Regions from separate parts of the Homo sapiens genome. Here region 1 is linked to region 2. The links come from fine-mapping of genetic effects on gene expression. A gene starts in region 2. The other region holds a variant in brackets. All regions are shown on one strand. Distances are from middle to middle.

Region 1 (15,828 bases), 27 kb after region 2:
AGCCTTACATGGCTTTCTTAAGCAGCAGCCCTTGCCATTTATTGAGCATCAAGGAAATGTCAGGAGTTCTCCTAGGAACAAGGGAAACTTCAGTGAGCAAAACACACACACAAAAAAATCCTTTTGCCCAGACAGAGCTCACTGTGTCTTCCCAACTACAAAGTGGCTCCAAGACATGGGATAGAGTCTCCCTGTGACCAGGCAGATAGAAAGGGGTGATAGAAAAGCAACCCTTGTGATAGAAAGGGGTCCTGGCAGAGGTTTTTCAATAAGTATCAGTTGGATAAAGAAATAGCACGGAGCAGCCAGGCACGGTGGCTCATGACTGTAATCCCAGCACTTTGTGAGGCCAAGGTGGGCGGATCACGAGGTCAGGAGATTGAGACCATCCTGGCTAACACGGTGAAACCCCATCTCTACCAAAAAAATACAAAAAAATTAGCCAGGCGTGGTGGCGGGCACCTGTAGTCCCAGCTACTCGGGAGGCTGAGGCAGGAGAATGGCATAAACCCGGGAGGCAGAGCTTGTAGTGAGCCGAGATCGCACCACTGCACTCCAGCCTGGGTGACAGAGCAAGACTCCATCTCAAAAAAAAAAAAAGAAAAAGAAAAAGAAAAAAAAAAAGAAATAGCACAGAGCCAGGATTAGGGTGAAGAGAGTGAAGCAGCACTAAGCCAGTGCAGGATTTGATCCAGTTTTTACCTATAATGTTGAGATTTTGTTCTTCATGGAATTTTGGTATTCATTTTAGATTTTTAAAAATATTGCATTAAAATATTACTTCTTGGCCAGGTGCAGTGGCTCAAACCTGTAATCCCAGCACTTTGGGAGGCCAAGGCAGGTCACTTGAGGCCAGGAGTTCAGCCTGGACAACATGGCAAAACCCCTTCTCTACTAAAAACACAAAAATTAGCTGGGCATGGTGGTGCTTATCTGTAATCCCAGCTACTTGGGAGGCCGAGGCGGGAGAGTTGCTTGAACCCGGGAGGCTGCAGTGAGCTGAGATGGCGCCACTGCATTCCAGCCTGGGTGACAGAGCAAGACTCCATCTCAAAAAAAAAAAATTATTTATCTTCATTGCTGAGTTTTTGTTTTTTGTTTTCTTGAGACAGGCCTTGCTCTATCACCCAGGCTAGAGAGCAGTGGCATCCGGGCTCAATCAATCCTTCCGCCTCAGCCCTCCAAGTAGCTGGATCACAGGTGCACATCACCATGCCCAGCTAATTTTTGCATTTGTTTGTAGAGATAAGGTCTCCCTATGTTGCCCAGGCTGGTCTCCAGCTCCTGGCCTCAAGTGATCCTCCTTCCTGGGCCTCCCAAAGTGCCGGGTGAGCCACTGCACCTGGCCTACCATTGCTGAGCTTTTTGGTACTCCTTTGAACTTTGTAGCCAGGTCCGGTGGGTCATGCCTGAAATCCCAGTGCTTTGGGAGGCTGAGGCGGGAGGATCACTGGAGCCCAGGAGATTGAGGCTGCAATGAGCTATGATTGTGCCACTGTACTACAGCCTCGTGACAGTGGGGTCCCTGTCTCTTTAAAAAAAAAATGAAAACAAAAAAAACTTTGCTTCTGAGACAAATGCCTCACTTTTCTTTTCTTTTCTTTTCTTTTTTTTTTAAACGGAGTGTCTGTAGTCAGGCTGGAGTGCAGTGGCGTGATCTTGGCTCACTGCAACCTCTGCCTCCCAATTTCAAGCGATTCTCCTGCCTCAGCCCCCCAAGTAGCTGAGATTACAAGCATGCAACACCACACCTGGCTAATTTTTGTATTTTTAGTAGAGACGGGGTTTCACCATGTTGGCCAGGCTGGTCTTGAACTCCCGATCTCAGGTGATCCGCCTGCCTCAGCCTCCAAAAGTACTGGGATTACAGGCGTGAGCCACTGCGCCTGACCAAGTGCCTCATTTTCATCACCCCAGTCCCATCCTGGTCGATGGCCCATGGTGTGTGCTTAGTAAATGATGGCTATCTATCAGTTTTCCAATGCCTGGGTCTAGCATGAACATGGGGAGGCGGGCCACCCACCGTGTAGCTCATCTCGAATTTCCACTTGCGTGCCTGCAGGTCCCAGAGACACAGCAGGGCATCCTCAGACCCGCTGACCACCAGCTGCTCCTTGTGGCTGACCTCCACACAGGCAACTCGGCTCCTGTGGGTCTCCAAGGGAAACGCTTTGGAAGTTGCACACTCGTAAAGAAAGAGGTCCCCATTGGTCATGCTGTAGACCACGCGGTAGTCCGTCAGAATGGCCACGCTGGAGAGGGTCTCGGGCAGCTGAGTGTAAAAGGTGTATCTTGGCCCATCGATGACCGGGCAGGGGTCCCCGGAGGTGATGTCCAGCACCAGGACGATGTTGTCATAGGCGATGGCCAGGCGGTCCTCGCACTTGCTCAGGGACATGCAGTTGATTGCTTTCCGGGCCTCGGGAGGGGGAATGCATATCACGTCCTGCCTGGAATTCAGGGGGAACACAAGGACGACCCCCGACACGAGGCCCGTAAATAGGAGCTTGCGCTGCTCAGCAACCTCCAGACACCTGATCTCACTGGAGGTGTCCAGGGAATCTTGTTCCTCGCCTGCCAGGGAAGAAAAATGAGAATGACTTACACTGAGAGTGAATCACAGCAGCCCTGCTTCCCTGGTGGTTTTTTTTGTTTTGTTTTGTTTTTGAGATGGAGTCTCACTCTGTTGCCCAGGCTGTAGTGCAATAGCACGATCTCAGGTCACCGTAACCTCCACCTCCTGGATTCAAGCAATCCTCCTGCCGCAGCCTCCCGAGTAGCTGGGATTACAAGTGTGTGCCACCACGCCCAGCTAATTTTGTATTTTTAGTAAAGGTGGGGTTTCTCCATGTTGGCCAGGCTGGTCTCTAACTCCCAACCTCAGGTGATCCACCCACCTTGGCCTCCCAAAGTGCTGGGATTACAGGCGTGAGCCACCACACCCGGCCTGGTGTTCATATTTTCTTTCTTTCTTTTTTTTTTTTTTTTTGAGACAGTATTCTGGAGTGCAGTGGCGAGACTGAAGCTCACTGCAGCCTCCAACTTTTGGACTCAAGTGATTCTCCTGCCTCAGCCTCCTGAGTAGCTGAGACTACAGGCGCCTGCCACTGTGCCCTACTAATTTTTTTATTTTTTGTTTTTTTTAGACAGAGTCTGGCTTCGTTGTCCAGGCTGGAGCGCAGTGGCACAATCTCGGCTCACTGTAACCTCTGCCTCCCAGATTCCAGCAATTCTCCCACCTCAGTCTCCCGGGTAGCTGGGACTAGAGGTGCGCACCACCACGCCCAGCTAATTTGTTTGTATTTTTAGTAGAGACGGGGTTTCGCTATATTGGCCAGGCTGGTCTTGAACTCCTGACCTCAAGTGATCCGCCCGCCTCGGCCTCCCAAAATGCTGGGATTACAGGCATGAGCCATCGCGCCCAGCCTATTTATGTATTTATTTATTAAGAGACGGAGTCTCACTCTGTTGCCCGGGCTGGAGTGCAGTGGCACGAACATGGCTCACTGCAGCCTCAACCTCTCAGGCTCTAGTGATTTTCCCACCTCAGCCCCCCAAGTAACTGGGACTACAGGCTCGGGCCACCACGCCCAGCTAATTTTTGTAGAGATGGGATTTTACCATGTTGCCCAGGCTATTCTTGAACTCCAGGGCTCAAACGATCCTCCCACCTTTGCCTCCCAAAGTACTGGGATTACAGGCATGAGCCACCATGAATTGTCCCATCTTGAAGCAAGGGGGCCAGACTTTTGTATTCCCACATCAGGCAGTCATTGACTGGGGCCATTTCAGGGGCGGTGGCCACATCCCCCTGCCATTTCCAGTTGAGAGGCTTCTTTCATCAGTGGGCAATTCCCAGGAGTAAAATGAAGGTGGGGGCACTGCTGGGTCTGCGAGAATTGGACAGTGAGGGATTTCTGAGTTTCTCACCAACAGTACTTGGCACAGTCCTGCTGGGAGGATAGAGGTATAGAAACTCCTGTTAATGGCAGGGCGTGGTGACTCACGTCTGTAATCCAAGCACTTTGGGAGGCCGAGGTGGATGGATCACCTGAGGTCAGGAGTTTGAGACCAGTCTGGCCAACATGGCAAAACCCTGTCTCTACCAAAAATACAAAAATTAACCAGGCGTGGTGGCAGGCACCTGTAATCCCAGCTACTTGGAAGGGAGGCTGAGGCAGGAGAATCGCTTGAACCCAGGAGGTGGAGGTTGCAGTGTGTCAAGATTACGCCACTGCACTCCAGCCCGGGCAACAGATGGAAACTCCCTCTCAAAAAAAAAAGAAGAAAAGAAAGAAAAAGAAAAAAGAAACTCCTTGTTAATGATGAAATAATAGGAGAAAGGAATCCTGATTTTCAAGCTGATTCTCAACTTCATTCAGTCGTTAATTTGGCAAACATTTTTAGAGTAACAGCCCACTAGGCAAAGCTCTGGGGGTTGGCAGGGAGCAAATCAAGTGAGGTTACAATTCTCGAGGTGCTTGTTTGCTGGTTGCAGGGTGAACCAGGGCCCAAGGAAATGGAGAGATGCCAGGTGCAGTGGCTCATGCCTGTAATCCCATCTATTCAGGAGGCTGAAGTGAGAGGATGGCTTGAGACCAGGAGTTCAAGACCAGTCTGGGCAAAAGAGTGAGACCCCTGCCTCTGCAAAAACATTAAAAAAATTAACCAGGTATGGTGGTGTGCGCCTCTAATCCCAGCACTTTGGGAGGCTGAGGCAGGCAGATTGCTTGAGCCCAGGAGGTCAAGACCACCCTGGGCAAGATAGAGAGACCTTATCTCTACAAAACACACAAAATTTGGCTGGGCACAGTGGTGCACACCTGTAATCCTAGCACTTTGGGAGGCCGAGGCAGGTGGATCACTTGAGGTCAGGAGTTCGAGACTAGCCTGGCCAACACGGTGAAACCCCATCTCTACTAAAAATACAAAAATAAGCCAGGCATTGTGCTGCACACCTGTAATCTCAGCTACTCGGGAGGCTGAGGCAGGAGAATTGCTTGAACCCGGGAGGCGGAGGTTGCAGTGAACTGAGATCACGCCACTGCACTCCAGCCTGGGTGACAGAGCGAGACTCCATCTCAAACAAAAGAACAACAACAAAAATAAAATAAAATAAAAATAAAAATAAATAAATAAATAAATATTTTTAAAAATTTTAAAGTCTCCAGGAGTCAGGCATGGTGGTGCACCTGTGGTTCCAGCTACTCAGGAGGCTGAGGCAGGAAGATCGCTTGAGCCCAGGAGTTCGAGGCTGCACTGAGCCGTCATTGTACCTCTTCACTCCAGCCTAGACAGTAGAGTGAGCCCTGACTCTTAAATAAGACAGAACAACAAAAAAAAGAGGCCCCAGGGAGCTTCTTTGCCCCTTTCTACCATGTGAGGACAAAGAAAATCTGGCCATCCATGACCCAGAAAGAGGACACTCACCAGATACCAAATTTAAAAAAAAATTAATTTAACCCAAGACAACAAAGTTGCTGGCACCTTGATCTTGGACTCCCCAGCCTCCTCCAGAAATATGATAAACAAATTTCTATTCTTTCTTTAAATTAAAAAAAAAAACAGAGAGACAGGGTCTCTGTTGCCCAGGCTGGAGTGCAGTGGCATTATCATAGCTCACTGCAGCCTTGAACTCCACGGCTCAAGCAATCCTCCTGCCTCAGACTCTGGAGTAACTAGGACTACAGGCATGTACCACCAAGCCCGATACCTTTTAAATTTTTTTGTAGAGGTGGGGTCTCACTATGTTGCCCAGGCTGGTCTCAAACTTCTGGTCTCGAACTTCTGGCCTCAAGTGATCCTCTCTCCTCAGCCTCCTAAAGTGCTGGGATTACAGGCATGAGCCACCACACCTGGCCCCATTTGCTATTCTTTCTAAGCCACCCAATCCATGGCATTCTGTTATAGTGGCCGGAATTGACTAAGACTGGTGCTCTACCTCTTCCAGGGCTCCCCATGGAATGATGCTGAGAGGGACTTTAGCTGAGCCTGCATTCTTGCTCAACCCTTTCCCCCGCCAGCCCCATTTTCTCATCTCCCTCTGGGGTTCTCCTGGAAACACCCCTCAATACATCACTTGTGCAAATATCCTCATCACAGATTCAGCTTCTAGGTAACCTGAATTAAAACAGGCCAAACGGAAACAACCAGATTGCCAACTACCTCATGCAGAAAATGTATAAAATGAAATCCTGTTTTTGACCAGCTACTTTCTTTTTCTTTTTTTTTTCGGGTGGTGGAGTCTCACTCTGTTGCCAAAGCTGGAGTGCAGTGGCATGGTCTTGGCTCACTGCAGCCTCCACCTCCCAGGTTCAAGCAATTATCCTGCCTCAGCCTCCCCAGTAGCTGGGATTACAGGCACACACCACCACGCCCAGATAATTTTTTTTTTTTTTTTTTTTAAGTAGAGTTGGGGTTTCGCCATGTTGGCCAGGCTGGTCTCCAACTCCTGACCTCAAATGATCCGCCCACCTCAGCCTCCCAAAGTTCTGGGATTACAGGTGTGAGCCACCACACCTGGCCATGACTAGCTAGTTTCCACCTGATTGAAGTTATAGGCGTGTTATGGACTGAAGATTTGTGTCCCCCTGACAAATTCCTATGTTAAAATCATCACCCTCTGTGGAATGGTATCAGGAGCTTGGGCCTGTCTTAGTTCATTGGTGTTGCTAATGAAAACCTGTTTTTGACTAGCTACTTTCTACCTGATTGAAGTTATAGGAATGTTATGGACTGAAGATTTGTGTCCCCACCCCCCCACCAAATTCCTATGTCAAAATCCTCACTCCCCATAGGATGGTATTAGGAGCTGGGGCCTGTCTAAGTCTGTTGGTGTTGCTATGAAGGACTACCTGAGGCTGGGTAACTGAGATGGTTTGGCTGTGTCCCCACCCAAATCTCATTTTGAATTGCAATAATTCCCACAGGTCAAGGCCGAGGCCAGCTGGAGATAATTGAATCATGGAGGCAGTCTCCCCCATACTGTTCTTGTGGTAGCGAATAAGTCTCATGAGATCTGATGGTTTTGTAAAGGGCAATTCCCCTGCACACACTCTCTTGCCTGCCACCATGTAAGACGTGACTTTGCTCCTCATTTGCCTTCTGCCATGATTGTGAGGCCTTCCCAGCCATGTGCAAATGTGAGTCCATTAAACCTCTTTCCTTTACAAATTACCCAGTCTCAGGTATGTCTTTTTTTTTTTTTTTTTTGAGACAGAGTCTGACTCTTGCCCAGGCTGGAGTGCAGTAGCAAGATCTTGGCTCACTGCAATTGCCACCTCCTGGGTTCAAGCGATTTCTGGCTAAGTTTTGGAATTTTAGTAGAGACAGGGTTTTACCATGTTGGCCAGGCTAGTCTCGAACACCTGACCTCAAATGATGCGCCTGCCTTGGCCTCCCAAAGTGCTGGGATTACAGGTGTGAGCCAGCAGGCCCGGCCTCAGGTATGTCTTTATTAGCAGTGTGAGAACAGACTAATACAGTAATGCATAATTATGAATAAGAGGTTTATGTGGCTCATTGTTCTGCAGGCTGTACAGGAAGCATGGTGCCAGCTTCTGCTTCTGGTGAGGGCCCCAGGCTGCTTCTTCTTAATACAAAAGGTGAAGGGGGTTGGGGTGTGCAGAGGTCATACGGCCAGAGGAAGCAAGAGAGAGGGAAGTGCTAGCTTCCTTTTTTTTTTTTTTTTTTTTTTAATTGAGATAGGGTCTTGCTCTGTCACCTAGGCTGGAGTGCAGTGGTGCAATC[A/G]CAGTTCACTGCAGCCTCAAATTCCTGGGCTCAAGCGATCATCCTGCCTCCATCTCTCAAGTAGCTGAGACTACAGGTGAATATCACCATGCCCAGCTCATTATTTTTATTTTTATTTTTATTTATTTATTTATTTTTGAGACAGAGTCTTGCTCTGTCACCCAGGCTGGAGTGCAATGGTGCTCAATGCAACCTCTGCCTGCCGGGCTCAAGCGATTCTCCTGCCTCCCTCCTGAACAGCTGGGATTACAGGTGCCCGCCACCACGTCCGGCTAATTTTTGTATTTTTAGTAGAGATGGGGTTTCACCATGTTGGCCAGGCTAGTCTTGAGCTCCTGACCTCGTGATCCACCCAACTCAGCCTCCCAAAGTGCTGGGACTACAGGCGTGAGCCACCATGCCCGGCCATTATTTTTATTTTTATTGCGACAAGGTCCATGTTGCCCAGGCTGGTCTTGAACTCCCGGCCTCAAGCAATCTTCCTGTTTCTGCCTCCTGAGTAGCTGGGGTCAGGTTCTTTTTAACAACCTCGCGAGAACTAACAGAGTTAGAACTTACTCACCACCACCACTGCCTTGCCAGGAGAGGGCATTAATCTATCCACGAGGGATGTGTCCTTATGACTCAAACACCTCCCGTGAGGCCTCCCTCCAACACTGGGGATTAAATTTCTTTTTTTATTGTTGTTTTGTTTTCAAACAGGGTCTTGTTCTGTCGTCCAGGCTGGAGTGCAGTGGCACAATCTCAGCTCACTGCAACTTCTGCCTCCTGGGCTCAAGTGATCCTACCACCACAGCCTCCCAAGTAGCTTGGACTACAGATGTGAGCCACTACACCGAGCTAATTTTTGTCTTTTATGTAGAGACGTCTGGTCTCAAACTCCTGAGCTCAAGTGATCCGCCCACCTCAGCCACCCAAAGTGCTGGGATCACAGGTGTGAGCCATCACGCCTGGCTTTTTTGTTTGTTTTTAGAGACAGGGTCTCACTCTGTCACCCAGGCTGGAGTGCAGTAGTGCGATCATGACTCACTGTAGCCTCAACTTCCCAGGCTCAAGCGATCCTCCCACCTTAGCCCCCAAAATAGCTAGAACAACAAGCACATGCCACCATATCCAGCTAATTTTTTTTTTGAGACAGAGTTTTGCTCTTGTTGCCCAGGCTGGAGTGCAATGGCGTGATCTCGGCTCACTGCAACCTCTGCCTCCCAGGTTCAAGCTATTCTTCTGCCTCAGCCTCCTGAGTAGCTGGGATTACAGGCATGCACCACCACGCCCAGCTAATTTTGTATTGCTTTAGTGGAGGTGGGGTTTTTCCATGTTGGTCAGGCTGGTCTCGAACTCCCGACCTCAAGTGATCTGCCTGCCTTGGCCTCCCAAAGTGCTGGTATTAGAGGTGTGACCCACCATGACTGGCCACATCCAGCTATTTTTTAAATTTTTAGTAGAAATGGCATCCTCTCATCTTGCCCAGGTGTTCTTGAACCCTAAGCTCAAACAATCCTACTGCCTCGGCCTCCCAGAGTGCTGTGATTATAGGTTTAAGCCACCATGGCCAGCCGGATATTAAATGCCAACATCTGGTTTGTAGGGCCAAACCTCCGAACTGTAGCAGAGTGACAGGGAAGTGATTAGATCATGAATGTGGGGCGTTCCTGAATAGGATTAGTGCCCTTATAAGAAGAGACACAAGAGATTTCTCTCTCTCTCTGGGGACACATCAAGAAGATGGCCATCTGTGAACCAGGAAACGGGTCCTCACCAGACACGAGATCTGCTTGCACTTTGATCTGGAACTTCCCAGCCTCCAGAATGTTGAGGAATAATGTTTCTTGCTTATGCCACCCAGTCTATGGGGATAATTTATTTTATTTTATTTTTCTGGGACAGAGTCTCACTCTGTCGCCCAGGCCGGAGTGCAGAGTCAGGATCCCGGCTCACTGCAGTCTTCGCCTCCCAGGTTCAAACAATTCTGCCTCAGCCTCGCAAGTAGCTGGGGATACAGGCATGTGCCACCATGCCCGGCTAACTTTTGTATTTTTAGTAGAGACAGGGTTTTGCCATGTTGGCCAGGCTGGTCTTGAACTCCTGACCTCAGGTGATCCACCCGCCAAGGCCTCCCAAAGTCCTGGGATTACAGGCGTGAGCCATGGGGCCCAGCCTGTGGGGATGATTTGTTACAGTAGCCTAAACTAAGACAGATGGCTCCAAGCCTTACCCACAAAAATGACCATACTTATACCTTACCAACCTTCTGCCAAGTCCCAAATAGTGACTTTGTTTTTGTCCCCAATTTTGGGGAAGTAGACGTAGCTTCCATTGTGGGACACTGCGGTGAGGCCGGTGCGGTCCAGAAATGGTGCAGGCACCCGGGACCTATGAGCATCGCTGAGATCCCAGACCTTGAAAGATGAGGACTGTGGGGAAGCAGATGCCACCAAAGCCCCGCCGCGGGCCAGCAGGCTCACGGGGGCCCCGACGCCTTCCAGGATGTCCAGAAGGGTCCCCTGTTCTGACAGACTCCACACCTGAGGAAGCAGAACAGGAGGGCAGATCTGACATCTTCTGTGGACAACTATAGTTCAGAAATACGCTTCAGCCCATTGGGCCAGGCGCGGTGGCTCACGCCTGTAATCCCAACACTTTGGGAGGCTGAGGCAGGTGGATCACCTGAGGTCAGGAGTTCGAGACCAGCCTGACCAACATGGAGAAACCCCATCTCTAATAAAAATACAAAAAATTAGCCAGGCTTGGTGGTGCATGCCTGTAATCCCAGCTACTCAGGAGGCTGAGGCAGGAGAATCGCTTGAACCCGGGAGGTGGAGTTTGCAATGAGCCAAGATCGTGCCATTGCACGCAAGCCTGGGCAACAAGAATGAAACTCCGTCTCAAAAAAAATAAAAATAAAAATAAATAAATAGGCCAGGTGCAGTGGCTCACACCTGTAATCCCAGCACTTTGGAAGGCTGAGGCGGGTGGATCATGAGGTCAGGAGATCAAGACCATCCTGGCCAACATGGTGAAACCCCATCTCTACTAAAAATACAAAAATCAGCCAAGCGTGGTGGTGCACACCTGTAATCGCAGTTACTCGGGAGGCTGAGGCAGGAGACTCACTTGAACCTGGGAGGCAGAGATTGCAGTGAGCTGAGATTGCGCCACTGCACTTCAGGCTGGCAACAGAGTGAGACTCCGTCAAAATAAAAATAAAAATAAATAAATAAGAAAATAAGAAATACACTTCAGCCCATTCATAAACCTAAGGTGAATTTTCAGGCTGTAAGTTCAAGGGCCTTCACATCTTCCCATTCCTTTAACTTACTCAGGCTTGAACCCATCAGCTTCCAGAGCAGTTCCCAAAGTGTGTTCCAGGGAACTCCTGGAGGGTGCCCTGTAAACCTTTTTTAGAGGGTGCCCTGTAAACCTTTTTTAGAGGGTCTGGAAGCTCAAAACTTTTAATGTTTTTTTTTTTTTAATTATTTTATTCTAGCCAGACATGGTGGCTCACGCCTGTAATCCCAGCACTTTGGGAGGCCAAGGCAGCTGATCACCTGAGGTCAGGAGTTTGAGACCAGCCTGGCCAACATGGCGGAACCCCGTCTCTACTAAAAATACAAAAATTAACCAGGCATGGTGGTGGGTGCCTGAAATCCCAGCTACTTGCGAGGCTGAGGCAGGAGAATTGCTTGAACCCAGGAGGTCGAGGTTGCAGTGAGCTGAGATCATGCCACACTGCCCTCCAGCCTGGGCGACTGAGTGAGACTTGGTCTCAAAAAATAAAGAAAATTATTCTTATTTTTTTGGAGACAGGTTCTTGTTTTGTCACCCAGGCTGAAGTGCAGTGGCGTAATCACAGCTCACTGCAGCCTCTACCTCCCAGGCTCATGTGATCCTCCCACCTCAGATTCCTGAGTAGCTAGGACTACAGGCACATGCCATGACGCCCGGCTAATTTTTGTGTTTTTTTGTAGAGATTGGGTCTTGCTATGTTGCCCAGGCTGGTCTCGAACTCCTGGGCCCAAGTGATCCACCTGCCTTGGCCTTCCAAAGTGCTGGGATTACAGGCATGAGCCACTGTGCACAGTCTATTTATCAATTTCTTTAAAACTGGAAAAAATAGCTCATAAGAAGGAGGGGGAAAAAAAGAGAACTTCAAGAGGCCTGAGACTAAAACACTGAAGATCTGCTATTTCACCATCTACTTTTCTCTCCAGCTTGGACAACTTTGAACTTAAATTGAGAATTTTCCTCCCCCACAACCCTGCTCCACTCTGAAGGCACAAATCTGCCCCCAAGGTTTGAGGATCAGTTTGGGAATGCTACCTCCTTTGTTGAACATTTCAGTAATTCTCACCCAGGTCTGCCACTGGGGCGGAGGATACACCCCCATATCCTCCCAATGAACTCACCTATTTTGCCTGCACTCATTTTTGTGGGTGTCTGTATTTTGCAGCCAAAAATCCCTAAAGAATCAGTGTCTGTTCCCGAGGTGGAGGTGAGGATGAAGGGTCCCAGATCTCCCCTCACCTGAATGAGCGCATCAAGGGACCCCGTGATGATCAGGTTGTTCTCAGTACCAAAAACAGCCGTCTCCACCATGTCTTCATGTTCCAGATCCATGGCCATGAATCGGCGAAAGCCCCTCGAGTCCGCCAAGAATATCCGCACCGATCTTCCAAAGCCTGAAACGGCAGGAACTGGGGTTACACCTCTCATGTCCAGAGGAGATTGAGGGTCATTCCTTCCATCAACAGAGGTGTTTTGGAGGCCGGATGTGGTGGTTCATGCCTGTAATCCCAGCACTTTGGGACGCCAAGGCGGGCAGATCACTCGAGGTCAGGAGTTCGAGATCAGCCTGGCCAACATGGTGAACCCCGATGTTTCATGTATTTTATTCTCTACTAAAAATACAAAAATTAGCCAGGTGTGGTGGCACATGCATGTAATCCCAGCTACTCAGGAGGCCGAGGCAGGAGAATTGCTTGAGCCCAGGAGGCAGAGGCTGCAGTAAGCTGAGATTGCACCACTACACTCCAGCCTGGGCAACAGAGCCAGACTCTGTCTCAAAAAAAAAAAAAAAAAAAAGAGATGTTTTGGAACCCCTGCTAGGTGCCAGGAGAAGGGATCCAGGACGGGGAAGGTGGATTCAGTCCTGTCCCCATCTGCACATAGCCCACAGCTGGTTGGGGGAGGGCCTGACTTCTGTAATCACTCATCAATTTTTTTTTTTTTTTGAGATGGAGTCTCGCTCTGTCACTGAGGCTGGAGTGCAGTGGCATGATCTTGGCTCACTGCAACCTCTGCCTCCTGGGTTCAAGCGATTCTCCTGCCTCAGCTTCCTGAGTAGCTGGGCTTGTAGGTGCTGACCACCATGCCTGGCTAAATTTTGTATTTTTTAGTAGATACCAGGTTTCACCATGCTGGCCAAGCTGGTCTCAAACTCCTGATCTCAAGTGATCCGCCCACCTCGGACTTCCAATGTGCTGGGATTACAGGCCTGAGCCACCGTACCCAGCCAGTAATCACTCATCTTAAGGAAACTTGTAAAGTTATTATAATGAAACTGTAAGTTCCTGGAGGGCAGGGACTGCCTATTTGGCTCATCATGGTATCTCAGAAACTAGCACAAAGCTGGGCACACAGCAGGCCTTTGATAACTATGATGGAAGGAAGGGAGGAAGGAGAGAGGAGAGTCAAGGAGGTAGAGAGGAAGAAAAGTAAAGAGGAAGGGAGGAAGGAGAGAAATGAGAAGGGGAAGAAGGAAGGAAGAAGAGGAAAGAAAGTAAGAAGGGAGAAAGGAAGGGATAGCGGCAGGAGGCAGGCAAATGCCTAGGCAGATAGGAATGGGTCCCCAGTGAAACTGTACCTTTGAACCAAAAACAGCCTGGGCTGCTGTTTCCAAATGAAATCCACAACCCAGAGTGAGAACTCCTGTTCCTGTTTGCCCACCCTTTCCTGATTGATTCTTTCTGAATAAGACTTTTGTGGCAGTGGCATGATCTTGGCTCACTGCAATCTTCACCTCCTGGGTTTAAGCAATTCTCCCACCTCATCCTCCCGAGTAGCTGGGATTACAGGCGCCTGCCACCATGCCCAGTTAATTTTTGTATTTTTAGTAGAGACAGGGTTTCACCATGATCATCAGAAGTTCAGATCAGAAGTTCACTGATCTGAACTTCTGATCTCAGGTGATGGCCCACCTTGGCCTCCCAAAGTGCTGGAATTACAGGCGTGAGCCACTGCACCTGGCCTGAATAATGCTTTTTAACCAATTGAATGTTACGTTTTCCAATACTACCTACCACCTGCCCCTCCCCCATCCTGTGCCTATAAAAACGCCCAGACTCAGCCACACTGAGAGAGATGACCCAACCTTCACATCCCCTCTCCCCTGAGAGCTGTTTTGTTGCTCAATAAAATTCTCTGTCCTTATCACTTTTCAATTGTCAGCATGACCTCATTCTTCTTGGACACGGGACAAGAGCTTAGGACTCACTGGATGCAGGTACCCAGGAAGGCTGTGACACTGTGGCCCTCTGTCCTTGATGGCAGAGGGAAGCTGCTCCACGCAATAGAAGCAGTGGTGGGGCCAAGCCAGTCCCAGAACTGCAGGCCAGAATGGGGAAAGGGGCTGACTGAACTGCTAACATGCCACCATCCATTGGGTTGCAGATGGTGGAACTAAAAGAGCAAATTAGGCCAGGTGTGGTGGCTCATATTTGTAATTCCAGCACTTTGGGAGGCAGACGCAGGCAGATAACCTGAAGTCAGGAGTTCAAGACCAGCCTGGCCAACATGATGAAACCCCATCTCTACTAAAAATACAAAAATTAGCGGGACGTGGTAGCAGGTGCCTGTAATCCCAGATACTTGGGAGACTGAGGCAGGAGAATCGCTTGAACCCGGGAGGTGGAGGTTGCAGTGAGCTGAGATCATACCACTGCACTACAGCCTACGCAATAGAGCGAGACTCGGTCTCAAAAAAAAAAAAAAAAAAAGGTAATTAGCACACTGTAACACCCCCTCTGGGGCTTCAGGGTCGTGGACCCCTTGTGTTTCCTTTGGGGTGACACATGGCCTGGTCTGCCCATGGGCCCTGCATGGAGCCTGGCCCTGTGTCAGTGCTTGAAGCAGCCAGCTGGACCCTACATTCACTTGCTCACATGCTCCCTCCTGCTAGGGGCTGAGTGCTCAGTCGTGGCAGTGGCCATGGGAGCCGCGGGCTGGGCCAAAAGCCAGATGTGACCCCACAGGCTGAATAAATGGGGTGCCCCCTGCTCCCAGCTTGGCAAAGAGGCCAAGAAAAATCCTGCATCAAAAGGAAAGAAAGGGCTGGGCGCAATGGCTCACGCCTGTGTAATCCCAGCACTTTGGGAGGCTAAGGTGGGCGAATCACCTGAGGTCAGGAATTCGAGACCAGCCTGGCCAACATGGTGAAACTCCGTCTGTACTAAAAATACAAAAATTAGCTGGGTGTGGTGGTGTGTGCCTGTAATCCCAGCTATTCAGGAAGCTGACGTGGGAGGATCGTTTGAGCCCAGAAATTCAAGGCTGCAATGAATTATGATTGAGCCACTCCACTCCAGTCTGGGTGACACAGCAAGACCCTATTTAAAAAAAAAAGAAAAATAATAGAAAAATAGTGTCTATGCTAGTTTATGTACCACAACTGCAGAGTTGAGTCTTTGCAACTGAGGTTGTCTCGTCTGGACTGCAAAAAATGTTTACTATGAGGCCATTTGGCAGAAAACGTTGCTAACCTCTGGCCCTAGGACTTCTCTCTGTTCCCAAGCCCCACCCCCTTCTCCAACCTGATCCTGATTAGCTTCCTCACTACTCCAAATGAGAGCTAAACGCTACCTGCGGCGAGGAGGGACTCATCTTCAGAGACCACCAGGAACCTCACAGCATCTGGAAGCTTCTCCAGCAATCTGTCCCCTTTGGAGGAAACCTGTGCAGAACCAGGGATGCCTGTCAGGCACTTCCACGGGTTAAGGGTTACAAGTCTGGAATTTTTTAATTTTTTAATTTTTATTTTTTTTGTTTTTGAGATGGAGTCTCACTCTGTCTCCCAGGCAGGAG
Region 2 (15,828 bases):
TTAAGGGGTTATCTCTGTCTCTGTCCAAGCCAGCTGTCATCTTCCACGAGGCAGGGTCTGCCCTGAAGAGGACCCGCTAGCTGAGAGCGGCCATGTTCCCACCAGCATCCAGTTTCTCATTCCTGCACCATGCACTGCTCCCTGGCGACGTTCCAGAAGGTGGATACAGTCATGAACAAGACAGTGCAGGGCCCACCTCATCTTAAGGACTCACCGTCAACCAAGGAAGGAAAACCAATAAGAAACAATGCATTCTGAACTTCTTTTCCTAGCCGTTTTGAAATACATAACCCAGGGTGGTGTAAGAATGACACAGGGTAGGGACTAGGGGGCTCTCTGTGGAGCTGACATTACAACCAAGGCCTGAATTACCAGACAGTAAATGATGCTGACTCAGGAGGCCAAGGCAAGGCTCCAGTAAGAAGCTGTTCCTTCCTCCAAATTCCCCAGGTCGTCACTGGCCACACACCACGGCCTGTGTCTGTCTTCCCCTTTAGACTCGTGTTCTCAACCTGAGCAACTCTGCCACCCAGGGGACACTCGGCAACACGGGAGACACTTTAGGTTATCACATCTAGAAGCATCTGGTGGGTGGAGGCCAGGGAGGCTGCTCAAATACCCTTCAGTGTGCAGGACGGCACCTCGCCATAAAGAACAGTCTGGCCCCCAAAGCTGAAGACACCCTGCGCCAAAGGCTGCCCGAGGCTGGGACTCTCTTATTCACCTTCCTTACCACCTATGGGCCACTCCCTACTTGTCAGTAGCTGGCAGGCTTTGTGATAAAATTGGGGGGGGAAAAAGATACTTCAAAACAGTCAAACTAGAAAAACTAAGCAACAGAGAATACTGGCCAGGCGTGGTGGGTCACACCTGTAATCCCAAAACTTTGGGAGGCCAAGGCAGGAGGATCACTTGAGTCCAGCCTGGACAACATGGTGAAACCCTGTCTCTGTTTTAAAAATGTAAAAAAGGCCAGGCACAGTGGCTAACGCCTGTAATCTCAACACTTTGGGAGGCTGAGGTGGGGGATCACTTGAGGTCAGGGGTTCGAGACCAGCCTGGCCAACATGGTGAAAACCTGTCTCTACTAAAAATACAAAAATTAGCTGGGTGTGGTGGCACATGCCTGTAATAGCAGCTACTTGGGAGGCTGAGGCAGGAGAATGACTTGAACCTCAGAGGCGGAGGCTGCAGTGAGCTGAGATCACGCCATTGTACTCTAGCCTGGGTGACAGTGAAATGGTGTCTCAAAATTAAAAAATAATTCAATTAAAGTAAAAAAAAAAAAAAAAAGAACTTTGGGAGGCCGAGGTGGGCAGATCATGAGGTCAGGGGATTTCGAAACCAGCCTGACCAACATGGTGAAATCCCATCTCTACTAAAAATACAAAAATTAGCTGATAGTGGTGGCAGGCACCTGTAATCCCAGCTACTCAGGAGGCTGAGGCAGGAGAATCACTTGAACCCGGGAGGCAGAGGATGCAGCGAGCCAAGATCGTGCCATTGCACTCCAGCCTGGGCAACACAGCGAGACTCTGTCTCAAAAAAAAAAAAAAAAAAGATGGCCAGGTGCAGTGGCTCATGCCTGTAATCCCAGTACTTTGGGAGGCCGAGGCAGGCAGATCACGTGAGGTCGGGAGTTCAAGACCAGCCTGACCAATATGGAGAAACCCCGTCTCTACTAAAAATACAAAATTAGTCGGGCGCGCTGGTGCATGCCTGTAATCCCAGTTACTCAGGAGGCTGAGGGAGGAGAATCGCTTGAACTGGGGAGGCAGAGGATGCGGTGAGTCGAGATTGTGTCATTGCACTCCAGCGTGGGTAAAGAGCGAAACTCTGAAACTCTGTCACAAAAAAAAAAAAAAAGAAAGAAAAGAAAGAAAGAAAGAATATCACCAGGGCCTCTGTGTGTGGGAAACCCTGTGAGGCTTTCAGACGATGGCCTCTCAAAGGACTCCAGGGAGCCGAAAGCTCAAAGGACTCCTGAAGCCACGCGAGTCATGGCCTGGACCTGGGATATCTCTCATGTTTCTGTCCTGAAGCCACACAAACAACAGCCCAGACTGCTGGGAAACAGGGCTGGAAACCTGACAGCACCTGTGTCAATATCAACTGGAAGCCAGTGGGCTCCCAGGGGCCCCCGAAGAGAACAAACTTCTACACCTAAGCCTGGAAATGACTGTTCCCAGGCTGCAGCACGATGACCAAGGCCCTGCTGAGTAGCTACTAAGTGAAAGTTCTTTTCAAGCCTTTCCCCAAGTCGATGGGTCTGCACCGTCATCATTGTCACCTAAGCCACCTACGGGGAGACAAGACTGCCAGCCCTCCACGGTTGGGGACCCGCAGCTACTTAAAGGAAGAGCCAACTCCAAATACAACCAGTGTGGCGCCTGTCAAGATCTAGCCCTGAAAGCCGAGTTACTCCACGGGCAGGGACTCTGCTGAAAGGCAATTTCCACATGCAGGACGCACAGTTCACATCTTTTCACTCTGGCTCTTTCTGAGTGAGTGACAGGAACGAGACCCAGAGTTTCCACAGCATTCAGGCTCTGCAAAGTGCTCTGGTGGACGCTGCTATTGCAAATGAGCTTGGCTTTCTCCCGCAGTCGTGACTGTTCTGGAGATCAGTCTTGCTAAGGCTTTCATGGTCTAAGACACAAGCAGTACATCTGGATCCTGGGGCTTCATTTGCAAACAGGAAATGGAAGGCTCTTCAGAGTTCAGTGGCCACACGCTTCCAAGTTCCCCTTTAAAGCTGAGATTCAGCTGGGTGCGGTGGCTCACACCTGTAATCCCAGCACTTTGGGAGGCAGAGGTGGGCGAATCACGGGGTCAGGAGTTCGAGACCAGCCTGACCAACATGGCGAAACCCCCATCTCCACTAAAAATACAAAAAAATTAGCCGGGCATGATGAAGCGTGCCTGTAATCCCAGCTACTCAGCACGCTGAGGCAGGAGAATCTCTTGAACCCAGGAGGTGGAGGTTGCAGGGAGCCGAGATTGCGCCACTGAACTCCAGCCTGGGTGACAGAGCGAGACTCCTTCTCAAAAAAGGCAAAAAAAAAACCCTGAGACTCGCTCCTTGGCTTTCAGGAGACAACAGGCTGATGGCAGAGAGGGTCTTGCACAGAGAAGCAGCAGAATTTTTTTTTTTTTTGAGACGGAGTCTTGCTCTGTCACCCAGGCTACAGTGCAGTGGCACAATCTCTGCTCACTGCAACCTCCGCCTCCCAGGTTCAAGCAATTCTCATGCCTCAGCCTCCCAAGTAGCTGGGATTACAGGCATGCTCCACTGCGCCTGGCTGATTTTTGTACTTTTAGTAGAGACAGGGTTTCACCATGATGGCCAGGCTGGTCTTGAACTCCTGACCTTGTAATCTACCCATCTCGGCCCCCCAAAGTGCTGGGATTACAGGCGTGAGCCACTGCGCCTGGCCGAGAAGCAGCAGAATTGACACACACCTTGCACATGGAATTAATACAAAAGCACTGCCACATTACCCTTCGCTGTTCTCTTTCCAACTGACTGCGGAGTGTCAGATCCCTAATTGATTGGACGCTCTATCATCTCTTCCATCAAAGAAGACCTACCAAGTGCTTCCAGCAGTAGATTCTGACACTCCCTGCTAAAACTCTCGAGGCAAGGACTGGAGGAGGTTGGGAGAGCTGGTCCACTTACACCGGTGGTTCTCAACAGGGGCACTTTTGCCCCCCAGGGAGACACCTGGCAATGTCTGGAGACATTTCTGGCTGTCAGAACTGAGTGAAGGTCTGGTAGGTACACGCTACAGATCCTGCTAAACACCCCACAATGCACTGGGAAGCCCCCAACAGCAAAGAATTATGCCTTAAATGGGAAATAGTGTTGAGGTGGAAAAAATGACAATGGTCATCTTATAAAAGGAAATCTTAAGTAGGCTTTCTTTTTCTCAGAGGCGCTAGTAAGCTCAAGCATGAAGAGACTGCAGAGATAGAAGGGGCAGTGAGCCAGGCACAGTGGCTCACTCCTGTAATCCCAGCACTGTGGGAGGCCAAGGTGGGCACATCGCTTGAGGCCAGGAGATCGAGACCAACCCTGGGCAACATAGTGAGACCCTGTCGCTACAAAAAAAATAAATAAATTAGCTGGCCGTGGTGGTGCACGCCTGTAGTCCTAGCTACTTAGGAGGCTGAGACGGGAGGATCACTTGAGCCCAGGAGGTTGAGGCTGCAGTGAGATATGATGGCACCACTGCACTCCAGCCTGGGCAACAGAGTGAGAACCTGTCTTAAAAAAAAAAAAAAAAAAGGAGGCTGGGCACGGTGGCTCACGCCTGTAATCCTAGCACTTTGGGAAGCTGAAGCAGGCAGATCACTTGAGGTCAGGAGCTCAAGAACAGCCTGGCCAACATGAAGAAACCCCATCTCTACTAAAAATACAAAAATTAGCTAAGCATGGTGGTGCACACCTGTAATCCCAGCTACTCGGGAGGCTGAGGCAGGAGAATTGCTTGAACCTGGGAGGCGGAGGTTGCACTGAGCTGAGATTGCGCCACTGCACTCCAGCCTGGGTGACAGAGCCAGACTCCGTCTCCAAAAAAAAAAAAAAAAAAAAAAAGAGGGCCAGCACCTATCACCCAAGAAAAAAGGGACCAAAGCAAAGCCAGGAGTCCCAGCTGAGCTAATGATCCTATCAACAATTAAATGAAACACAGCCAACATAAACGTGGCTACTCACACACCATCTCGACCACTTTATTTTGTAGGTGGTACTGAGAGTGATCAGAGGCAGACGAGGACATGCTTAAATACAAGGGCAAGCCTGCCTGGTATGCTCGCTGGGAAAGCCTCAAGCCAAGACCTCAGCAACTGCTGAGGTGGTTATTTAGACTTCACACAAAATTCTGCGTTAGGAGGATACCTCCCTGACATCCACTCTTGATTTAAATCTTCCAAACAGATCAATTTGGGAGGCAGAGGCTGCTTGTGTAGGTGTTTCCATATCTATTTTGATTTGTGCTAGAAGCAATGAGCACGTCTAGAAAAAGAACAGATCTTAAGTGGCTTTCTAGCAATGATACAGGAGAGACACGTGGCCCAACCTGAGTAGCAAGACATACTCGGTGAAGGCTGAGATCACCCGAACCACTGTAGTGGCATACCTGGCTTGTCAGAGGCGACTGTATGTTTAACTTGCCATTCTTGGGAATGTCTATTCTATATCCGAGGGGAAGAAAAGCGTTGAATCCAACAATGAGGTCAGGGTGCTCGTGGAAGAGCTGCGAGACACGTCTGATGACTCCAGGAGTATCGATGCTAGAAGAAACAACGGAAGTGGGCAAAAGGGTCTTGGGAAATAAATGAAAAATATAATCTATTCCCCACTCCCTTGATACTGCCACATAAAAACCTTCTCAACAGACAACAAAGGAACCTAAAATGTGACCCACCAGGCGCAGTGGCTCATGCCTGTAATCCCAGCACTTTAGGAGGCCGAGGCAGGCAGATCACCTGAGGTCAAGAGTTCGAGACCAGACTGGTCAACATGGTGAAACCCTGTCTGTACTAAAAATACAAAAACGAACTTGGAGTGGTGGTGCGTGCCTGCAGTCCCAGCTACTCAGGAGGCAGAGGCACAAGAATCACTTGCACCCGGGAGGCGGAGGCTGCAGTGAGCCCAGATCACACCACTGCACTCCAGCCTGGGCGACAGCACGAGAATCCATCTCAAAAAAAAAAAAAAAAGTGCCCCCATGTGATAGCATCTGTACACCATGACCTATCTCCTGACTGGCTAGGCCTGAGCTCCCTGTTCCCTCCTGGTGAGAACCAGAGAATACTGACATCGCTCAGCTCCCCTAAAACACTCCAAGAATGGGTACTCGGTTCTGAAAATGTCAGGAGAGCCAACCGCAAGGCCTGGACTCCAAGAAATGGCAGGAGGCCAAAGTCCTCTAAGCAATGTGAAAACTTCCCTCATTTTGTATCAGATAGAGATGACTATGACACAGGTTTCCATCTGAGCAAACAATTGCAATGCATAAATACCAATGGTACTGCCAAGAATGGGAAAGGTGTAAGAAAAATAGGAGGGGAGAGATGGGGTCTCCCTTCTGGCTGCATTGCAGCCCAGCCCTTAGCACTGGGCTCCCGGAAGGAAACCAGGCCAGCCCCACCATGTTTCCTAAGAGGGGGCAGCAGTATGGTAAGCATGTGACTTCCAAGAATCTGAGTCAGAGGGTCTGAGTTCTAGTGACACCTCTGCCACTTAGGTGGGTCCCTTACCCACTCCAAACCTCAGTGAGTCTCCTATAAAAACAAGGGCATGATCCCAGGGTTTCCCATCTATCTGTAATCTTCCTTGATTCTGGGCCTGCAAAATCATCTCATGTGTTTTAAACGTTTTCTGTGTGCCAGCTCCCTTACTAAGCATTTTATGCGTCTTACTTCCAAGCAGGCCTGGGACCACAGTGAGCCCAGAGAAGCATCTTGAGGACAAGATTAAAGGGGAAGAGGGTGCCAAAAATTTCAATCATCAAGACAATAACATTTTACAGCGCTTGAAAATAAAAATCAAAATGGGTCCCACCAAATCTTTCATGAACAAAACTAATATAAAAATCAACATATTAAATCAAGGCAGGATTTGACTCTATGAGTGTGCACGGCCTCGCCCTCCCTGCCTCCCCCCAGATCCCTGTCCTGCTTCCAGGAATCCCCACAAAGCTCCACAAGGTGGGTACTACCCATTTCCATTTTTGTTACGAGAAGGAGCTAGGGCTCTGAGAGATTGGACAACCTGCGCAAGGTCACCCGGCTAAGGGGGCAGGCTGGAGAGGGGAGGTCTCACCCCGCTAGGCCCGATTCCGGCCCAGGGGGGTCCCCTGAGGTGGAGAGGGGCCCCGCTGGTACCTCTGGCTTTTGAACTCCTTCATGATCTCCAGGAAGCCGTTGTAGGTGGCAGGGTCGCTGCCAAAGCGGATCTTCACCTGGTCCAGATAGGTGAGGGCGTCTTCTACCTGCAGAGAGGGGGAGGGTCCCGGTGGGCCCTGGCCGCGGAACGAGGGGACGAGGGGCCGGGGTCCCTGAGGGGAAGGGGATGGGCTGGGCTTTCGGAGGGCCGAGGTGAGAGGTGAGGGGTGAGGGGTCCGGGGCAGTGCAGAGGGGAGGCCGAGGTGGGGCTGGGGCCGGGCGGGGCCTGGGTGAGGGGCGCCCGCCCGCGGGGTCCAGAAGATGGGTTCCCCGAGGGAGGGCGGGGACGCCACTCACGTGCACCGGCAGCTTCTCGTGGCCTGCGGAGCCCGAGCGACCCCAGCGGGCGCCGCTCAGCCCCCGGCCCGCGGGGCCGCCGGCACCGCTGCCACCGCTGCCACCGCCAGCGTGCGCCATGTCCGAAGTCGGAGCTGCGCCCCGCCCCGCCCCCGCCCGAGGTCCTGCCGCGCATGCGCAGCCTCCGCCTTTGGAGGCGGGGTTTGATGACGTTGAGGGGCGGTGCTCTTTGAGGGACTCTTCTGAAGACCTTCTCCTTAAGATTGGTATCATAATTAATGATTTATATAGCAGGGGTAGGCGAGCCAAGACCCGCCGCCTACTTTGTCCGGCCCCGCAAGCTCAGAATTATTTTTACATGTTTACATAGCCGGGGGAAAAATCCAAAGAAGAATAGTCTATGACCTGTGAAAAGTTTGTGAAATTCACATTTGAGGGTCCCTGAATAAAGTTTTATTAGCACACAGACACGCCCACGCGTTTACCTGGCTTCTCTGCCTGCTTTCGCCTTACAACAGAGTAGGTAGTTGCTAAAGATCCTACAGATCTGCAGACCCTGAAGTATTTACGATCTGGCCTTTTATGGAAAAAGTTTGTTGGCCCCTGCTTTATAGAGTTGACGGGACGATGAGGTATGAGCCCCCAGCGCCCTAATATAGGGCCTTGCGTGGTGAATTTTTGCTAAATGGCCTTTAAGTTAGTCCTACTCCTCCCATCTTCACTTCCCTATCCTTGGCCCCGTCACTTCCCATCTGGACCAGTTTAGGAGCCTCCTAACTCTGGTACTTTCTTTTTTTTTTTTTTTTTTTTTTTTTTTTTTTGAGACAGAGTCTCGCTCTGTCGCCCAGGCTGGAGTGCAGTGGCGCGATTTCCGCTCACTGCAAGCTCCGCCTCCCGAGTTCACACCATTCTCCTGCCTCAGCCTCCTGAGTAGCTGGGACTACAGGCGCCCGCCACTGCGCCCTGCTAATTTTTTGTACTTTTAGTGCCACCCCACCTGGCTCTAACTCTGGTACTTTCTCAGCCCTGATACTATCAAGAACTCTAGGCTGGGGATGGTGGCTCACGCCTGTAATCCCAGCACTTTGGGAGGCCGAGGCGGACGGATCACGAGGTCAGGAGATAGAGACCATCCTGGCTAACACGGTGCAACCCCGTCTCTACTAAAAATACAAAAAATTAGCCGGGCCTTGAAAAAAAGAAAAAGAAAATGAAAAAATTGGCTGGGCGCCGTGGCTCACGCCTGTAATCCCAGCACTTTGGGACGCCGAGGCGGGCAGATCACCTGAGGTCTGGAGTTGGAGATTAGCCTGACCAACATGGAGAAACCCCGTCTCTACTAAAAATACAAAATTAGCCGGGCTTTGTGGCGCATGCCTGTAATCCCAGCTACTCGGGAGGCTGAGGCAAGAGAATTGCTTGAACCCGGGAGGCGGAGGTTGCAGTGAGCCAAGATCACGCCATTGCACTCCAGCCTGGGCAACAAGAGCAAAAACTCTGTCTCAAAAAATTAATTAATTAATTAATTAAATAATAAAATAAAATGAAAAAATTAGCTGGGCGTGGTGGTGCACACGTTTAGTCCCAGCTACTCGGGAGGCTGAGGCAGGATTGCTCATGCCCAAGAGTTCAAGGCTGCAGTGAGCCATGATCTTGCCACTGCACACCCCAGCCTGGGAAGCATAGCAGTGCTTTTTTTTTTTTTTTTTTTTAAAGAGCATCTCATCTCTTAAAAAAAAAAAAACAGAAAAACAAAAAACTCCACTTTTTCCACCACTCCTTCCAAACCTCCAAGGTCTTCCTATTTCTAATGAGATGAAATCTAAGCACCTACATTGCAGGCTGTCAGAATTGGTCCTTAGGAACCTTTTCCTGCAGGATTTTCCAAGCAAACTGCCTGCCTCTGTGCAGAACTTCACACAATTGCCTGACCAACCTGGCTGCTTCCTGGTCCCAAGCATTGGCACTCACCATTTCCTTTGCCAGAAGTACTGTCATGCCTCTTTGTTATTCAGAAAACACCTATACATCCTTCTAAACGCAGCCCAAATATCCCTTTCCCTCAGGAAGTGTTCCCAGTCCCCTTCTATGTCTCCCCTCAGTCCCTTGTATTTCATATTTGTTTTGTGTCCGTCTCTAATACAAATCCCTGACACAGTCTCTCAGTCAGCATTCATCAAATAAGTGAACGTTCAATTAATGACCAAGTGCTTTCTCTTTTTATAAGTGAAGAGGTGCAGGAAAGTTGAGAGTAAATTGGCATCGAGTGCATCATTTACCAGGCACCTTGCTAAGTGTCAGGAATAGAATGGTAAAAAGGAACGCAAATTTGGCCGTTAAGAGCTTTTAGTCTCTCAGGATAGACAGGAATCTAGTAATCACACAAATGTAAAGTTTCACATGTAACAAATACTTTAAAGAGAAGGTATACATGTAACAGTTCCTAAATTTCTGTTGCTATGACTGTGTAACAAATGAGCCCTTGACAATCCCAGCACTTTGGGAGGCCAAGGTGGGGGCATGCATTGAGGCCAGGAGTTTGAGACCAGCCCAGGCAACATAGCAAGATCCCATCTGTACAAAAACATTAAAAAGAAAGAAAAATGGAGAGAAAAAATAAAAACATTGTAAGGTCTGGGCTTTCTGTAAAAGAAAATAAAAAGCAGCTCAAGACTTAGAAGCTTCAAATGACAACAACATTCACGGGGCAAGTGGCTCATGGCTGTAATCCCAGCACTTTGGGAGGCAGAGGTGGGTGGATCACATGAGGCCAGGAGTTCAAGACCAGCCTGGACAAGATGGTGAAATCCCATCTCTACTAAAAATACAATAATTAGCCAGGTGTGGTGGCACACACCTGTAATCCCAGCTACTTGGGAGGTTGAGGCATGAGTATCGCTTGAACCCAGAAGGTGGAGGTTGCAATGAGCTGAGATTGCGCCACTGCACTCCAGCCTGGGGAACAGAGCAAGAGCAAGACCCTGTCTTGAAAAAAAAAAAAAAAGAAAGAAAAGAGACATTCATTTTACTCTTCAATCTGCAATTTGGGCAGGCTTGGGAGGAATAACTCAACCTTGGCATCAGCTGGGTGGCTCAAAGTCTGGGGGCTGGAATCACCTGAATGTTTGCTCACACATATGTATGTCAGTTGCTACAGGCTACAGGCCGAGACCCTCGCTGGGGCCGTTGCTTGGAATACCTACATGTGGTCTCCTTGCAGCCTGAGCTTCTTCACAACTACCGTTCTAAGAACAAGTGAGCGTGTGAGCCAGGTGGGAATCATATCATCTTTTCTTTTTCTTCTTCCTCTTCCTCTTCTTCTTCCTCTTCTCCTTCTCCTTCTTCTTCTTCCGGAGATGGCAGGGGTTGGGGTGGGACTCAGGGTCTCAGGCTGGCCCAGGCTGGCCTCAAACTCCTGGACTCAAAGGATCCTCCCACGTCAATCTGTTGAGTAGCTGGGACTACAGGCATGCATCACTGCACCCAGCTCCCATATTACCTTTTCTCACCCAGACTCGGAAGTCACGCAGAATCATTTCCATTGCATTCTTTCCATACAGGCTGTTACAAAGTTTTTCCTAAATTCAAGAGGAGGGCAAATGGCCAAGAGTATCATGTGGGACAGGAAATATGTTGTGGCTATTTTTGGAAAATACCACCTGTTACCTAGGGAAACCTAACCCAGTCTTGCAGGAGATGAGGGAGGCTTCCCAGAGGAGGTGGCATTCTAGCTGAGATCTGAAGAATGCGTAGGCATTCATCATGAGAAAAATCACGAACAGCTGTGATTTTTGAGGTGGGAGACAGCATGGTACATTTCAAGAGTTTTTTTTTTTTTAAGACGAGTTTCCCAGGCTGCAGAGAGGGAGGGGAAGAAAGAGAGTACAAGATAATCCCGGAGCAGCCAGAGGAGCGGAACACACAGCACCTTATGCACTGAGTTCAGGCTTTAGCATTCACGCTGGTGGAAACCATCCAAGGGCTTTGAGCGGAGGAGCTGCAAGTTCAGGTTTGCATTTGAAAGTGATCACTCTGGCTGCTCTGCAGGAAAGTGATTGGAGCGGAGCCAGGGAGGGTGGAGGGAGGCTGTTTCATCATTTAGGCAAAGGACGATGGTGGCTTAGACCAGGATGGGAGCAGTGGAAGTAGAGAGCGGTGGGTGGAAGGGAGTGGTATTTAGAAAGTAAAGCATGGAAGATTTGTGGCTCCCAGCCAGGAAGAGCAGCGAAGGCAGACTGAACACTCTGTGGCCACCAGATGTCTGGACAGTCCGTTTCTTACCAAAGCCTCCCAGTGTTACAGGAAATGGGTCCCGATCCAGACCCCCCAGAGAGGGTTTTTGGATTTCACGCAAGAAAGAATTCAGGGAGAGTCTGTAAAGTGAAAGCAAGTTTATAAGGAAAATAAAGGAACAAAGAATGGCTACTCCACAGACAGAGCAGCCCCGAGGGCCGCTTATTCCCCATTTTTATGATTTATTTCTTGATGATATGCTAAACAAGGGGTGGATTATTCATGCCTCCTCTTTTTAGACCATAGAGGGTAACTTCCTGACGTTGCCATGGCATTTCTAAACTGTCTTGGCGCTGGTGGGAGTGTAGCAGTGAGGACCACCAGAGGTCATTTTGATTTGGGTAGATTTTGGCCGGCTTCTTTACTGCAACCTGTTTTATCAGCAAGGTCTTTATGACCCGTATGTTGTGCTGACCTCCTATCTCATCCTGTGACTAAGAATGCTTTAACCATCTGGGAATGCAGTGCAGTAGGTCTTAGTCTTATTTTACCCAGCCCCTATTCAAGTCGGGGTTCCTCTGGTTCAAACACCTCTGACACTGTTACGGGAAAGGGGTCCCAATCCAGACCCCAAGAGAGGGTTCTTGGATCTCACGCAAGAAAGAATTCAGGGCCAGTCCATACAGTAAACTGAAAGTAAGTTTATTAGGAAAGTAAAGGACTAAAGAATGGCTACTCCATAGACAGAGCAGCCCCCAGGGCTGCTGGTTGCCCTTTTTCTTAGACAGAGTCTCGTTCTGTCGCCCAGGCTGGAGTGCAGTGGCGCCATCGTGGCTCACTGCAAGCTCCGCCTCCCAGGTTCATGCCATTCTCCTGCCTCAGCCTCCCGAGTAGCTGGGACTACAGGCGCCTGCCACCACACCTGGCTAATTTTTTTTGTATTTTTAGTAGAGATGGGGTTTCACCATGTTAGCCAGGATGGTCTTGATCTCCTGACCTCGTGATCCGCCCACCTTGGCCTCCCAAAATGCTGGGATTACAGGTGTGAGCCACAGCGCCTGGCCGCCCATTTTAATGGTTATTTCCTTTTGAGACGAAGTCTTACTCTGTCGCCCAGGCTAGAGTGCAGTGGCGCGATTGCAGCTCACTGCAACCTCTGCCTTCCAGGTTCAAGCGATTCTCCTACCTCAGCCTCCCAAGTAGCTGGGATTACAGGTGCGTGCCACCACGCCTGGCTAATTTTTGTATTTTTAGTATTAGAGACGGGGGTCTTATCATGTTGGCCAGGCTGGTCTCAAACTCCTGACCTCAAATGATCTATCCACCAAAGCCTCCCAAAGTATTGGGATTACAGGCATGAGCCACCGCGCCTGGCCAGTTATTTCTTGATGATACGCTAATCAAGGGGTGGATTATTTATGCCTCCCCTTTTTAGACCATATAGGGTAACTTCCTGATGTTGCCATGGCATTTGTAAACTGTCATGGCACCGGTAGGAGTACAGCAGTGAGGACAACCAGAGGCCACTCTTGTCTCCATCTTGGTTTTGGCTGGCTTCTTTACTGCAGGCTATTTTATCAGCTAGGTTTTTTTTGTTTGTTTGTTTTTGTTTGTTTTAGACGAAGTTTCACTCTTGTTATTCAGGCTGGAGTGCAATGGCGCAATCTTGGCTCACTGTAACCTCCACCTCCCAGTTCAAGTGATTCTCCTGCCTCAGCCTCCCGAATAGCTGAGATTACAGGTGCGCACCACCAGGCCCGGCTAATTTTGCATTTTTAGTAGAGACGAGGTTTCTCCATGTTGGTCAGGCTGGTTTCAAACTCCCGACCTCAGGTGATCCACCCACCTCAGCCTCCCAAAGTGCTGGGATTACAGGCATGAGCCACCGCGCCAGGCCAGTAAGGTCTTTATGACCCGTATCTTGTGCTGACCTCCTAACTCATCCTGTGACTTAGAATGACCTAACCATCTGGGAATGCAGCCCAGTAGGTCTCAGCCTTATTTTACCCAGCCCCTATTCAAGATGTTGTTGCTCTGGTTCAAATGCCTCTGACATCAGCAACCTATTAGTCATCGTCCTTGAGGGCCAACAGAGTTGTCCCACAGTGTGCCCCTCCCCACAGGGAGTGTGGCTTCTACTCAAATTTGTTTTCTCTCAAATGATCAGCAAAGGCCCTCTTTCATTTGGGGAAGAGGAAACTGTTACCGAAAAGGGGTCTTCATCCAGACCCCAAGAGAGAGTTCTTGGATCTCATGCAAGAAAGAATTCTGGACAAGTCCATAAAGTAAGTTTAAGAAAGTAAAGGAGGCCAGGTGGCTCACGCCTGTAATCCCAGCACTTTGGGAGACGAAGGCAGACAGATCGCTTTTTCTCTACAAAAAACAAACAAACAAACAAAACAAAACAAAAAATTAGCCTGGCGTGGTGGTGCACGTCTGCAGTCCCAGCTATTTGGGAGGCTGAGGCAGGAGAATTGCTTGAGTCCAAGAAGTCAAGGCTGCAGTGAGCCATGGTCGTGTCACTGCTCTCCAGCCTGGGAAACAGAGCAAGATCCTGTCTCAAAAAAAAAGAAAAAAGGCTAGGTGCAGTGGCTCATGCCTGTAATTCCAACACTTTGGGAGACCGAGGAAGGCAGATCACCTGAGTTCAGGAGTTCGAGACCAGCCTGGTCAAGATGGTGAAACCCTGTCTCAACTAAAAATACAAAAATTAGCTGGGCATGGTGGTGGACGCCTGTAATCCCAGCTACTCGGGAGGCTGAGGCAGGAGAATCACTTGAACCTGGGAGGCGGAGGTTGCAGTGAGCCGAGATCGCACCATTGCGCTCTAGCCTGGGTGACCAGAGCAAAACTGCATCTCAAAAAATAAAAATAAATTTTAAAAATGAAGAAAAAGAAAGTAAAGGAATAAAAGAATGGCTACTCCACAGGCAGAGCAGTGATATGGGCTGCTCGATTGCATATACTTACAGTTATTTCTTGATTATAGGTTAAACAAGGGATGGATTACTCATGAGTTTTCTGAGAAAAGGGGCGAAGATTTCCCAGAACTTAGGGGTCCCTACCCTTTTAGAACCTATAGGGTAACTTCTGGAAGTTGCCATGGCATTTGTAACTGTCATGGCGCTGGTGGGAGTGTCTCTTAGCATGCTAATGTATTATAATTAGTGTATAATGAGCAGTGAGGACAACCAGAGGTCACTTTCACACCATGCTGATAAAACCCTGCATCCTGGCCCGGCACGGTGGCTCACGCCTGTAATCCCAGCCCTTTGGGAGGCCAAGGTGGGCGAATCACCTGAGGTCAGGAGTTCGAGGCCAGCCTGGCCAACATGGTGAAACCCCCATCTTTACTCAAAAAAAAAAAAAAAAATTAGCCAGGCGTGGTGGCGGGCGCCTGTAATCCCAGCTACTCAGGAGGCTGAGGCAGGAGAATCGCTTGAACCCAGGAGGTGGAGGTTTCAGTGAGCCAAGACCATGCCACTGCACTCCAGCCTGGGTGACAGAGCAAGACTCTGTCTCAAAAACAACAACAACAACAACAACAACAAAAACCCTGCATGGGCCGGGCGCAGTGGCTCACGCCTGTAATCCCAGCACTTTGGGAGGCCGAGGCAGGTGGATCACCCGAGGTCAGGAGTTCGAGACCAGCCTGATAAATATGATGAAACTCCGTCTCTACTAAAAATACAAAAATTAGCCAGGCATGGTAGCATGTGCCTATAATACCAGCTACTCAGGAGGCTGAGACAGGGGAATCTCTTGAACCCAGGAGGCAGAGTTTGCAGTGAGCCAAGATCGCGCCATTCATTGCACTCTAGCCTGGGCAACAAGAGCGAAACTCTGTCTCAAACAAAAACAAAAACAAACAAACAAACAATGCCCCCCGACCCCCACCCCGCCCCAGAATCCTGTTTTATCAGCAGGGTCTTTGTGACCTGGGTCTTCCGTCCACCTCCTACCTCACCCTGTGGCTTAGAATGCCTAACCTCCCGGGAATGCAGCCCTGCAGGTCTCAGCCTCATTTTACCCAGCCCCTATTCTAGATGGAGTAAGCTTGTTTCAAACGCCTCTGACAAAACCACAAGCCAGTTCCATCTGGGGCATGTGTGTACATGTATGTATGTGCACACATGTGTATATTTATCATGAGGACAATAGTACAAAGACATCTTTTAATTTTATTTCCATTTATTTATTTTCTGAAACAGGTACTCGCTCTGTTGCCCAGGCTGGAGTGCAATGGTGCAATCACAGCTCACTGCAGCCTTGACCTCCTGAGTAGCCAGGACTACAGGTACGTGCCACCATGCCTGGCTAATTTTTTATTTTTATTTTTTTTACAGA

The links. PIP is the estimated chance that this variant, and not a neighbour inherited with it, causes the effect.
Region 1: its variant is fine-mapped to the expression of SIN3B in whole blood (INTERVAL, PIP above 0.99).

The regions. Positions count from the first base shown.
Region 1 is chr19:16,794,332-16,810,159 of GRCh38, reverse strand. It overlaps NWD1 (NACHT and WD repeat domain containing 1), which reads right to left. Exons shown (of 19, transcript NM_001007525.5): 15 at 15,607-15,697; 16 at 12,274-12,428; 17 at 9,998-10,274; 18 at 2,024-2,574. LOC124904648 (a long non-coding RNA gene) reads left to right here. Exons shown (of 3, transcript XR_007067150.1): 3 at 12,200-14,181. Among named protein-coding and RNA genes, the nearest start is that of SIN3B, 27 kb to the left of the region's middle. The variant A/G (reference allele first, on the strand shown) is at 7,750.
Region 2 is chr19:16,820,961-16,836,788 of GRCh38, reverse strand. It overlaps SIN3B (SIN3 transcription regulator family member B), which reads right to left and starts at 7,391. Exons shown (of 19, transcript NM_001297595.2): 1 at 7,249-7,391; 2 at 6,892-6,998; 3 at 5,142-5,295. The coding sequence starts at 7,368. LOC124904648 (a long non-coding RNA gene) reads left to right here and starts at 15,557. Exons shown (of 3, transcript XR_007067150.1): 1 at 15,557-15,598; 2 at 15,693-15,778. RefSeq lists enhancers at 1-139, 2,439-2,528, 7,164-7,665, 10,782-11,459 and a silencer at 7,244-7,423.